3 linked regions of the Homo sapiens genome follow. The protein of the gene in region 2 purifies or fractionates together with the protein of the main gene of each other region. This does not show direct contact. Each region holds a gene or a part of one and is shown on either strand. Other genes may lie near its edges. The genes, in order: CNTNAP3, CDH16 and GAS6.

Region 1 (3,644 bases), on a different chromosome or scaffold from region 2:
ATTCTAACTGTATACATCAATCAGAACATTTCTTCTTGACTGTTTTTGTAATTCTGCCAAATGGGAAACAGTTTTCATGACAAGAAAACATTTGCAGAAGAAAATTTAAAAAAGAAAACATTTGCTGTAACAAACTAAATACCAAAAGCTTACAAGTAATTGGCACTGATCCATAGTACACATGTAATCACTGGACTATTACATATTTTTTATCTTTTTATCAGCTGTATATTTCTTGACCTCATCATTTAGGTGGGTAGCTGCCTGCTACAACAGAGAGGCAGGGCTTCTTGCCACAGAGGAGTGCTTGTTAGTTGACTGAATGAATTCTGGCAACTGATTTTCCCAACAAAATACATTTTTAAATGTTTTCCTTTTATATATTGGAACAACTATTTTCCTGTTTTTATACAGAACACATAGAATTGTAGTAATTCTTAAAATGGAATTCCCATAATTAACATTATATATCCATATGCACAATTTGGAATGAATTGTCTTTTTGTTTTTGTGTGAAACTTACACATTTTAATAACCTCATTCAATGTAATTAGTAAATAGTTTTCTTGAGGATGATATCCAGAACCCAGAGATACCAGCTTAATTGTGGTTCTCCTTATTGGCTATACTCAATAATTCCATCAGTGAACCCATCAGTAATTCAGAATAACATGGAATGTATATGAAAACCTGTGTCTGTTGTCCTCAAATAGTCTTGTCTCTTTGTGTCATAAGGCCCAACTCACTCTTCCTCACTTCAATGACAGTGTCTTTGTAAATAGCCCCATAGAAGTTAGGGTGAGGAGGAGGGATTCTTCTGAACACCAAGGACTGGCAGATAAAAGGTAGCTTAATATTCAGAACGTGTTAGGTCAGGCTTCTTGACACGGATGCCCATTGGCCAAACCCATCTTTGTATCTGTATCTGAGTAACGCATCTCCAACAAAGCCAACTTCAATAACCAGGTCTTTTTTCTTTTTCCTGTTGAGCAGCACTTAAATGTCAGTTTCTCCATGGACAGAAACTTTAGGTAGAGGGCTGTTCCATTTATCTCCTTCCTCTTTTCATTTCTTTTTCATCTTGTCAAAGGAAACTGCACTCTGTGGAGCCTTGTTATCACTCTTCCCTTTGGTGTTTCCTTTTTCATGTATCTTGATGGTATTTTTCATTTTTATGATCTCAGCAGGGTGCTGTTCATAGTAAAACTTAGACTTCAAACCCATCTTTTTTTTTTTTTTTCTCCTTTACCTTCTTGGAAAGTTCATGGGCTTCACAGCTGTTTTTCCCTTTTTCTCATGCTAACCTAAGTGATGTATTCATTGTGTGGTCTGGTGACACACAGTCAGAGATATTTTCAGGTTTTGGTCCTGCAACCCATGAGCCAACTCCTCCAGCACATAACAGGAAAGAAAACATGTTCCCAACAATACAAATAAATATTCCCATGATGTGCTGCTGAGATACACTGACAACTAAACATGAGCTTTCCCTTTAACCCCAACTTGGATATTTCAAACTTTAAACATTGAAAGAAGTTTATTAACTGATTTGGAAGTATTTCCAGTTGATTAGGGAATAGATCATTAGGGATTGCCATTGCAAAATGATTGGTCTCCTGTGGATAACAACACCAAAAACACGTGAGACATATGAATTCTGATTTCCATGTAAAAATAGAAAGTTATTTTATTTCATATAAAAATGAAACAACGATGTCCCATGAGGCATATTTACTTTATAACTTTTTATGCATAATAAAAATTACTATATTAGGCTGGGTCAAGGTGGCTCGTGCCTGTAATCCTAGCATTTTGGGAGGCCGAGGCAAGTGTATCGTCTGAGGTCAGGAGTTTGAGACCAGCCTGGCCAATGTGGCAAAACCCTGTCTGTACTAAAAAAAATTAGCCGGGTGTGGTGGCACACACCTGTAGTCCCAGCTACTCGGAAGGCTGAGGCAGGAGAATGGCTTGAACCCAGGAGGCGGAGGTTGCAGTGAGCCAAGACTGTACCGCTGCACTCCAGCCTGGGCAACAGAGCAAGACTGCATCTCAAAACAAAAACAAAAACAAAAACAAAAAAAGTGCGCCTGTGGTCCTAGCACTTTGGGAGGCCGAGGTGGGCAGATCACGAGGTTGGGAGATCGAGACCATCCTGGCTAACATGGTGAAACCCCGTCTCTACCAAAAATATAAAAAATTAGCCGGGCATGGTGGTGGGAACCTGTAGTCCCAGGTACTCGGGAGGCTGAGGCGGGAGAATGGCGTGAACCCAGGAGGCAGAGCTTCACTGCACTCCAGTCTGGGCGACAGAGTGAGACTCCGTCTCAAAAAAAAAAAAAAAAAAATTGGCCCAGGCCCAGTGGCTCACACCTGTAATCCCAGCACTTTGGGAGGCCGAGGCAGGCAGATCACCTGAGGTCAGGAATTCGAGACTAGCCTGGCCAACATGGCGAAACCCCGTCTCTACTAAAAGTACAAAAATTAGCTGGGCATGGTGGCGGGCGCCTGTAATCCCAGCTACTCAGGAGGCTGAGGCAGGAGAATTGCTTGAACCTGGGAGGCGTAAGCTGCAGTGAGCTGAGATTGCGCCGCTGCACTCCAACCTGGGAGACAAGAGGGAGACTCTGTCTTAAAAATAAATAAATAAATAAAACTAAATTACTATATTACATGGGCAGCTGTTAAAGTAAGAACTGATTCTTAAAATATTAGATGAAATGGAGACTTCACATGAATAATTTTTAAATGCAAAAAATAAAATGTCCTTTTTTCTTTCCTTCCCATTAGGCTTCCTTACCATCATGAGGATCTGTGGTTTGTGTTTCTTGGCTAATTCGGTAACATCCACTCCATTATAATAAAGATTTTCTAAACACCCATGAAAGCTTTTACGTCTGAATGCCCGCGATCTTCCGGGTGTCGGAATTCCCCCAAAGCTGATCTTAGAAAGAAAAATGACATAAATAACATTGTTTAGTGATTTTCTGATGGTACGTGTTTAAAGCATTTATAATTAATAGGTCTAGTACTAACTGTCACAAATCCATTCCCATTATCTTATATTTGCATGCTTGCTTATTCCAAATGAAGTGTTCTATCATAATGACAGCTGTTAATACCTTTATTTCTGGCACCACACAGTTTTGAACAAACTTAAAAGGAAGAAGTCAACACACATTTTCTGCCACATTGAAATTTTCAGCCATGTAGTAAATTTACCCTTTGTGGGTCATATGATCTCTTTTGCAGCACTCAACTCTGACACGAAGTACCAATGTGGCCACGGACAATACATAAAGAAAGAGAACATGTTCCAATAAAACCTTCTCTTTTGAACAAAAACAGGCTTTGTATTTTTTTAATTAAAAAATGTCCAAACTTGGCCTGATGCCCATAGTTTGCCAACCTCTGCATTAGATATTATCTTTTGCTATTACATGGTTAAATTAAAGTAATAAAACTGAATAATCCGGTATAGGACTAGGATCTTCAGTTTAATATTATATGCCAAAGCCACTTACGCCAGTAAATATCACAGTTTTTCTGGTTTGTTATGATCCTTCATACACTTTAAGGTGTCCTGTAAAGGACTGAAAGAATAGATGCTATTTAACAGTGTAGCTTAGATACATATGGGCAATGGG
Region 2 (4,426 bases):
TCAAGGCCCACCTGACCTTACTGTAAATTGGCTGCCCTGGTCACTCACCAGGCCTGGTACCCCGGCTCAGCCGAGCTCTGTAGATGGCTTGAGAGAAATGGGGCACCTGGTCATTCTCATCCTTCACGTGCACAAGCACAGGCTGTGGACCCCACAAGACATGTCCATCCTGCATCTCCAGGGTGACCTGGCAGGGAAGGGGAGTCAGCGTCTGGCTCTGCCTTGCCTGCTCTCCCCTACACCTGGCCCAGCCATACCTGTAGCTGGTACTCTGCCTGCTCCTCTCGGTCCAGGGCCCTGGTCACCAGCAGGAAGCCAGAATCTGGATCCATAGCAAATGGGCCCTCAGTTGCCTTGCCTGAGTCCCCTGACAGCACGATCTGGCCTTCAGCCCCCTCACGGGGCAGCGGCAACTGATGGAAATGAACAGAAGTGAAGGGAGCGGTGGCCAGGCCTGGGAGATGCCCCTCCTCCACCTGATGGCCTCATTTTACATGTGGGGAAACTGAGTCTCAGAGACATCTGGCTCCTGTCAGAGGTCACACAGCCAGTAAGCATCAGGACTGAGACTCAGAGCCAGAACTCTTTTCCCTGGACCTGATGCTCCCCAAAACTCTCTGCCCTTCTTTCTGAAGCTTGAAACCTCACCACCGAGATTTCGTTCTTTAATCTAAAGCTCTGCTCTCCACTAGGATTAAAATCTGTTAGTCATTCCCACTGCAGGTTGAGCATCTCTAACCCGAAAATCTGAAATCTGAAATACTCAAAATCTGAAACTTTTTGAGCGCCAATATGATGTGACAAGTACAGAATGCCGCATCTGACCTCATGTGACAGGTCACAGTCAACACATAGTCAGAACTTTGTTTCATGCACAAAATCATTAAAAATATTCGCCCAGGAGCAGACTCACACTGGGCTCTTGGCCACTCAAGGATTCTGTCGGAATTTCACCTCTGTACTGTCAGCTCCTTCTGGCCATAGCCTCCCCAGCTCGCAAATCCCAAAGTGGTAATCCCAGCACTTTGGGAGCCCAAGACGGGCGGCTCACCTGAGGTGAGGTGTTCAAGACCAGCCTGGCCAACATGGCGAAACCCTGTCTCTACTAAAAATACAAAAAAAAAAAAAAAAAATTAGCCAGGAGTGGTGGTGCATGCCTGTAGTCCCAGCTACTCAGGAGGCTGAGGCAGGAGAATCTCTTGAACCCAGGACGTGGAAGTTGCAGTGAGCTGAGAACATGCTACTGCACTCCAGCCTGGGCGACAAGAGCGAAACTTCGTCTCAAAAGAAAAAAAAATGTATAACGTTACCTTCAGGCTATGTGTATAAGATGTATATGAAACATAAATGAATTTCCTATCTAGATTTGGGTTCCATTCCCCAAGATATCTCATGATATATATGCAAATATTCCAAAATCTGAAGAAAAAAAAAAATCCAAAATCTGAAACACTTCTGGTCCCAAGCATTTCAGATAGGGGACACTCAACCTGTGTAACGTGTACATACTCTCTGGAAAGCAGGATTTCAAAGAGAAACAGCAAGAGGAAGGGTGCCAGAGGAAGGAGAAGCAGGACTTTGCGGGGAGGGATCCCCCCGGCCCCAACCCCAGCTCTCCGGCTCACCTTGGTCAGGTATAAAGGGAAATTTCCACCATAGTTTTCTGGAACTTCCACAGACAGCTCTGCAGGCTGGGCCTTGGGGAGAGCCTGTGGGAGGATTCTCACCTTGTCACCAGGCTCTATCTTCCTGCGTGGGCACTGAGACCCAACAGAAGAGCGGAATTTCCGCCCCTTCCCAGGGCCTGGCTGTACCTTAGTCCATCCACCCGCGCTCTGGTCTTTGACCTCCTCATCCCACAGTGGCTCTATAGTCCCAGCTCTGACCCCTCCCATGCCTTGCACCGTTCTCACGGTCAGTGCAATTGGTCCAGGTGGAGTTGGGGGCAAGGGTGTCAACCCCCAAAGCCAAGACCTGAAGGAGAGGGGGCAGGGCCTAGCTCACCTGGGGGACGGAGACACAAAGCAGCCACAGCCAGGCAGGGACCATGGTCAGGACAGGCCTGAGGGACACGGCAGTGAGGATCCAGCCCAGGTGGGTAGGGAGGGGCTTTCCATCCCACACACACAACTAGTGGGATCGTACTGCAGACTAGTCTTCTCTTCCTCCCCTCCAAAGGAGCTGAGGCTCTCCATCTCCTGCAGGGTAGTGCCCTGCTCCTCGGCCAGGCCCACCAAGGCCCCCAGGCCCAGCCACCCTGCTTCTAGGCTCTTGGTCCATCAAGCACTCTATCAGAATTTCACCTCCAGACCTCCAGCTCCTTCTCACCATAGCCTCCCCAGGCCGCAGATCCCAAAGTGGTAATTTTCTAGCAATCCCCCAAATCACAAAAGTTTGAAGCTGGAAAGTTCCTGAAGACTTGGAGGGTCACTTCCTGAAGTCACCTCTTGTTGCAGGCAAGGCCTGAATGCTGGGGTCTGGCCAAGGTCACAGAGGACTTGACCACAGGAGGAGTCCTCCTAGCTCAGGGCCTCTGGGACTGTCCTGCCTCCCACTGCCACCTTCTAGACAAGGAGAACCCCCGGAGCAGGAGCCCGGCCCTTGTCTCATCATTTTCCAGCCCTTGTCATGGAGCTGGGCAGGCAGAGCAGCGACAAATCGACAACCCCTCTAAGATGAGGCCCTGGGAATTCTTTCCCAGATGGCGAGGACAGGGCAGTGTTTCTCCTTTCCCCACCACCAACCTCAGCCTCAGCCATGCCCTCCCCTCCACTCCCAGCCCCTCACCCTCCAGCGCCCAAGACTGGCTCCCTTGGTCCAGCTGCCAAGCAAGAAGAGAGCTCCTTCTCCAGGGGGCTCTGGCCAGGCTGGGCTGGGTGGGGCAAGGCAGGGCACTTGAGCAGGTAGGAGGGTTCAGCCACGCTTGCTCAGGAGTGGAAAAGGCCACTGGGCCCACAGCAGCAGGCCTGGCCCCGCCCAGCCCCCCAAGTTACTCATTGACTTTGGAAAGCCAGGAGCTGCTCAGCATCCGTGACTGCCAGCTCCAGGAGGTGGGGAGATGGTTGGCCTGGCACTCCCTCGACCCCAGCACAGCCCAGGAGGTATTCCTTGGCCCTCTGGTTCTGGACGTTACTTTTTCTGTGGCTCCAGACTTGGTCTGACTTATCTCCCAGGCTCCAGTGTCTGCAGCCACACCTTTTCACACTCTGTTCCTTTTGCATGGAACACCCTTCCCACTCATTCATCTGTGTGGTAAGCACCTGCTCATGCATGCTTCAGTGCTCAGCTCAAATATTCCTTTTTCCAGGAAACTTCCCCTATGTTCCCAGGCTTGTTCAGGAGCCTCCTCTGGGAATGCCCCTCCCCCTCACACCATGCCATGTGCTATCTCTATTAATACACAGAGGACACCAGCTTGTCATTGTCTGCCTCTTCCATTAGATTGGGAGCCCTTTGAGAGCAGAACTCAGGGACTCAGGAATGACCTGGCTCTCATTCTGCCCTGGCAGCTCCGCATGGCTTGTGGAACTAAGACAAGGAGCTGGAGGTTGCAAAGGATGGGTGAGCAGTACATGAGTGGAAGTGGGTATTGGGGCTCCAGACCACCCCCCCCAGGGGGACCTGTGGTGGGGGAGTGCAGCAGCCTATGAGCTCCCGAAGTCCTTACACTGGCCACTCAACAGTGACAGGGCTGAGACAGTGGGCAGTCTCATGCCCCTAAGAAGATTAAACTGGCTCAGGTGACCTTGAGGGAGTTGCAGGGCTGAACAGGGGCTCTCCCCGCAATGAGGGCAGCCAAGCAGAGCCAGGAGATGCTTCTGGGGCCTGGGAGTCTGGAATGAGGGGAGAGGGTGGGAAGAAGGTCTCCAGTCCCTCTCCAGCCTTGGAGCTTCCCATGGTCCCCACGAAGTCCTTCCCACTGTACATCTGATTAGTCTCTCTCAGGCCAGAAGCTACCCCCAGCTGCCCCCAGCCTTGTCACAAGCTGAGTGCCTGCTTCAGGGTCACTCTGGCACCCAGCCTGGAGCAGTGTAGTGTGGGGAGGTTGAAGGGGGTTTCACACGTGTTAAGCTCCTGCTCTGTGCCCAGCACTGCTCTGAGCACATACCTTCATTATGCCACATACTGCGTTCTGAAGGGGCATTGGGCACATGCTGGGGCACAGAGAAGCTGAGTGGTTTGCCTAGGGTCACACAGTCAATAAGTGACAGAGCCAGGAAGGCCTGGGGACCCTCACTTGATCTGAAAATACCATGCCTTCTGCATTCCTTGAAGTATGTGGGGAGGAGGGGCAGAGCAGCAACAGCTCTGAGCAGTTACCTCTGCCCTGGGGAGCACGTGGGTGAATCTCAGCGCTCCCCTGTACATGGAGGGGCAGCCCTCAAGCCTCCTCCTGCCATTCAATAAGCTGCAATCAGGATTCTAA
Region 3 (3,644 bases), on a different chromosome or scaffold from region 2:
TGTGCCTACTCCCTGGGAGGTCTGAGCTCCCAGGCCTCACGCCAGGCAGTTCCTGCTCCTTTGCCCTCAGCCCTTCCCACCTTGCGTCCAGGCCTGCTGGCACTCCCTCCCAGTTGATCTGAGTTTTCCTGGAGCCGGCCCCAGGGCCCGCCAGCCTATTCTGTCAGCCCTAGGCCAGCACAGAGGGCTCGGGTGCCCAGGGGCTGCCTCAGCCTGCGCCCCTCAGAGCTCCTCCGGGCTGGACCCGAGACCCCACAGCCGCCCCGATCTCAGCTGCGTTGGGCGCGCAGGGGTGGGGCAGCTGAACATGATTTTCCACTTTGTGTCCCCAATCAGACCTGCCTGACCAGTGCACGCCCAACCCCTGCGATAGGAAGGGGACCCAAGCCTGCCAGGACCTCATGGGCAACTTCTTCTGCCTGTGTAAAGCTGGCTGGGGGGGCCGGCTCTGCGACAAAGGTACGTGAGGCTGAAGACAAAGGCGGGGTCTCCCTCCATCTCCGACCCTGCCCTGATCCCCGCTCCTCACTCCCACTCCGGGGCACGGCCATCCTCAGGCTGCTCTCCGACAGCCCCAAGGAGGCTGCAGCCCTGAGGTATCCTGGAGCCCCAGGAGAATTGGGAGGAGCTGCAGTCTCCTTTCTGGGAGCAGGGCTGGAAGGAAAGGAAACACCAAGTGATGCCTCAGCACCCACTGATTGAAGGGCGGGGGGGGAAATTTCACCTCTGACCGTCCTTGAGTGCAGACCTGTGGTGTCAGTGGCACCCACTGATTGAAAGGCGGGGGGGAAATTTCACCTCTGACCGTCCTTGAGTGCAGACCTGTGGTGTCAGTGGCACCCACTGATTGAAAGGCCGGGGGGAGATTTCACCTCTGACCGTCCTTCAGTGTAGACCTGTGGTGTCAGTGAAGACCCTGGAGGAAGAATAGCTCCAGGGCCTGGTGGAGACCCATAGTGGAGAGCCCAGCAGGCCAGCCTGTCCCCTTTGGCAAATCCTACCCCACAGGTGGCCTGGGAGGGCTTTGCTAAGGAGTGGCCAGCTCTGGCCTGGCCTTGTCTGTCCTCGGCACCCAGAGGTCACTCCTGGCCTGCAGCCTCCTCCTGCAAGCACATGGGCATCCAGGGAGCTGAGCCCTGTGGGCTGTGACTGCCAGCAGCTCCCCAGGCTGAGACCGCAGCTGGGGATCCCCCATGCCCTCCCACCATCTACCTCCACACGCAAGGCCAGGACCAGGGGCCATGAAACGCTAGGGCTGCTGAGTGGGGTGTGAGGTCCAAGCCCTGGGGTCCCTCTCTGCTCCAGGGCTGGGCTGTGCACCTCTAGGATCTCTCTCTGCTCGGGGGCTGGGCTGTGCACTCCCAGGCTCTCTCCCTGCTCCAGGGCTGGGCTGTGCACACCCGCGGTCCCTTCCTCCTGCTCCAGTGCTGGGCTGTGCACCCCCCCGGCTCCTTCCCTGCTCCAGTGCTGGGCTGTGCACCCCCGGGCTCCCTCCCTGCTCCAGGGCTGGGCTGTGCACCCCCGGGGTCCCTTCCTCCTGCTGCGGGGCTGGGCTGTGCACCCCCGGGCTCCCTCCCTGCTCCAGGGCTGGGCTGTGCACCCCCGGGGTCCCTTCCTCCTGCTCCGGGGCTGGGCTGTGCACCCCCGGGCTCCCTCCCTGCTCCAGGGCTGGGCTGTGCACCCCCGGGGTCCCCTCCTCCTGCTCCGGGGCTGGGCTGTGCACCCCTGGGCTCCCTCCCTGCTCCAGGGCTGGGCTGTGCACCCCCGGGGTCCCTTCCTCCTGCTCCGGGGCTAGGCTGTGACCCCTGGTCTCCCTCCCTGCTCCAGGGCTGGGCTGTGCACCTTTGGGATCTCTCTCTGCTCCAGGGCTGGGCTGTGCACCTCTGGGCTCCCTCCCTGCTCCAGGGCTGGGCTGTGCACCTCTGGGATCTCTTCCTACCGTAGCCAGGGGCTGTGCACCCTTGGGCTCCCCTTCAGGCCTGTGCTTGTTCCCAGATGTCAACGAATGCAGCCAGGAGAACGGGGGCTGCCTCCAGATCTGCCACAACAAGCCGGGTAGCTTCCACTGTTCCTGCCACAGCGGCTTCGAGCTCTCCTCTGATGGCAGGACCTGCCAAGGTAAGGCCCTGGGGTGAGGCCTCTCTCCTCTCTCCTCTCCCCACCTTCTATTTTCGGTCATGTCTGCTCTTCTGCAAGCGGCTGCTGCTGGCTGGGTTCCTGTGGTTCTGGATGGGATGGGGCATCCTGCAGAGACTACACAAGCCCAGGCCAGCCGCAGCACAGGGAGCTGCTCGGCACCACACCAGGATGACTCACCCGGCATCTGAGGGCCAGGACTCAGGGGGCCGGCCCAGCCCATGAGGCCACACTGCTGGCTGTAGGGCCTCGTCCATTCCCCAGAGCCTCACAGAGCCTGGAAGTGCTCCAGGCACTTGTGTAGTGAGCTTGTGGGTCAGGGCTCCAGGCTAGGGTCCCCCCGCCGTCCACTCTCCCCAGCATCCCCAGAAGCACCCCGTTGTTGGTCTCCCTCTGTCCACTAAATATAGCCCTGCCCTCCCCACTTCCTTTCATATTTCAGTCTGGGGTTCCCTCAGCCCAGGGCCAGAGCTGGGGAGCCCCAGGACACCCCAGAAAGTCACTGTGAATGTGCGCGCCCCCGACGCTGTTCCAGGTGCTGCTGCTGCCACTGGCCCTTTGCCACTTTGCAGGGGGAGCACCTTCCTCCTCCCTCCCCACGTTGTATCTGGACATGCCCAGGCGTGTCCCTGAGAGTTTCTGGCATAGTTCTTAGCGCTGCTGCTGACTGTCCAGGACACCGAACTGCGTGGACAGGACAGACAGTTGCTCAGGGAGAAACAGCCCCAGGATCTGGAGAGTGAATCTGACCAGACAGGAGGGGCCACACCCCATCCCCCGATTTCAAAAGGCAGCTGCTATTTCTGTCCACTTTGGTGGTTCCCTTCCCTGACCACCCAGGAGTTAGCCCTGTGTGCAGATGACGTGATTCCCATCTTAACACATAAACCCATTTCCCCGCCGAGGACAGAGCCCCTCCCATCACTGCTCTATCCCTGACCTGGAAGACAGCAGCACCCCAGGTTTAAAGAGAGGTGAAGACTAGGCCGATCCTGAGAGATGACGTCTAAAGCATCTCCCGTGGGTCCCTGCACCAGTCGGGCACTCCCGGCAAAGTCTAGGCTCACAGTTACTGCCCACAGTGACAGAGGCATTCCCGTCCTCTCCTCCTCCTCCCCATCTTCCTCTTCCTCCCCACCATTCCCCCTCCTCCTTTCCCCACTCCCCCTCCTCCTCTCCCCACTCCCCCTCCTCCTCCCCCCCACTCCCCCTCCTCCTCCCCATCTTCCTCCTCCTCCTCATCTTCCTCCTCCTCTTTCTTCTCCTCCTCCCCCCACTCCCCCTCTTCCTCCCCATCTTCTTCCTCCCCCTCCTCCTCCTCATTCCCCTCTTCTTCCTCCTCATTCCCCTCTTCTTCCTCCTCATTCCCCCTCCTCTTTTTCCCCCTCCTCCTCCCCCATCCTTATTTCCCCTCTCCTCCTCCTCCCCCACCCCTCCCCACCCCCTCCCTCACCCCTCCCCACCCCCTCCCTCACCCCTCCCCACCCCCTCCCTCACCTCCTCCCCCA

What was found.
Region 1: the proteins of CDH16 (region 2) and CNTNAP3 purify together in Homo sapiens (affinity purification with mass spectrometry; one large-scale study listed by BioGRID and IntAct). This does not show direct contact.
Region 3: the proteins of CDH16 (region 2) and GAS6 purify together in Homo sapiens (affinity purification with mass spectrometry; one large-scale study listed by BioGRID and IntAct). This does not show direct contact.

Annotation. Positions count from the first base shown.
Region 1 is NC_000009.12:39,173,152-39,176,795, forward strand, and holds part of CNTNAP3 (contactin-associated protein-like 3 isoform 1 precursor), read right to left. Parts: intron 2,942-3,644; coding exon 2,798-2,941; intron 1-2,797.
Region 2 is NC_000016.10:66,916,017-66,920,442, forward strand, and holds the start of CDH16 (cadherin-16 isoform 1 precursor), read right to left. Parts: upstream 2,870-4,426; 5' UTR 2,788-2,869; intron 2,063-2,787; 5' UTR 2,050-2,062; coding exon 2,005-2,049; intron 1,710-2,004; coding exon 1,626-1,709; intron 414-1,625; coding exon 258-413; intron 188-257; coding exon 49-187; intron 1-48. UniProt on the Homo sapiens protein: Cadherins are calcium-dependent cell adhesion proteins. They preferentially interact with themselves in a homophilic manner in connecting cells; cadherins may thus contribute to the sorting of heterogeneous cell types.
Region 3 is NC_000013.11:113,836,543-113,840,186, reverse strand, and holds part of GAS6 (growth arrest-specific protein 6 precursor), read left to right. Parts: intron 1-336; coding exon 337-459; intron 460-1,939; exon of another isoform or gene 1,940-1,995; coding exon 1,996-2,118; intron 2,119-3,644. UniProt on the Homo sapiens protein: Ligand for tyrosine-protein kinase receptors AXL, TYRO3 and MER whose signaling is implicated in cell growth and survival, cell adhesion and cell migration.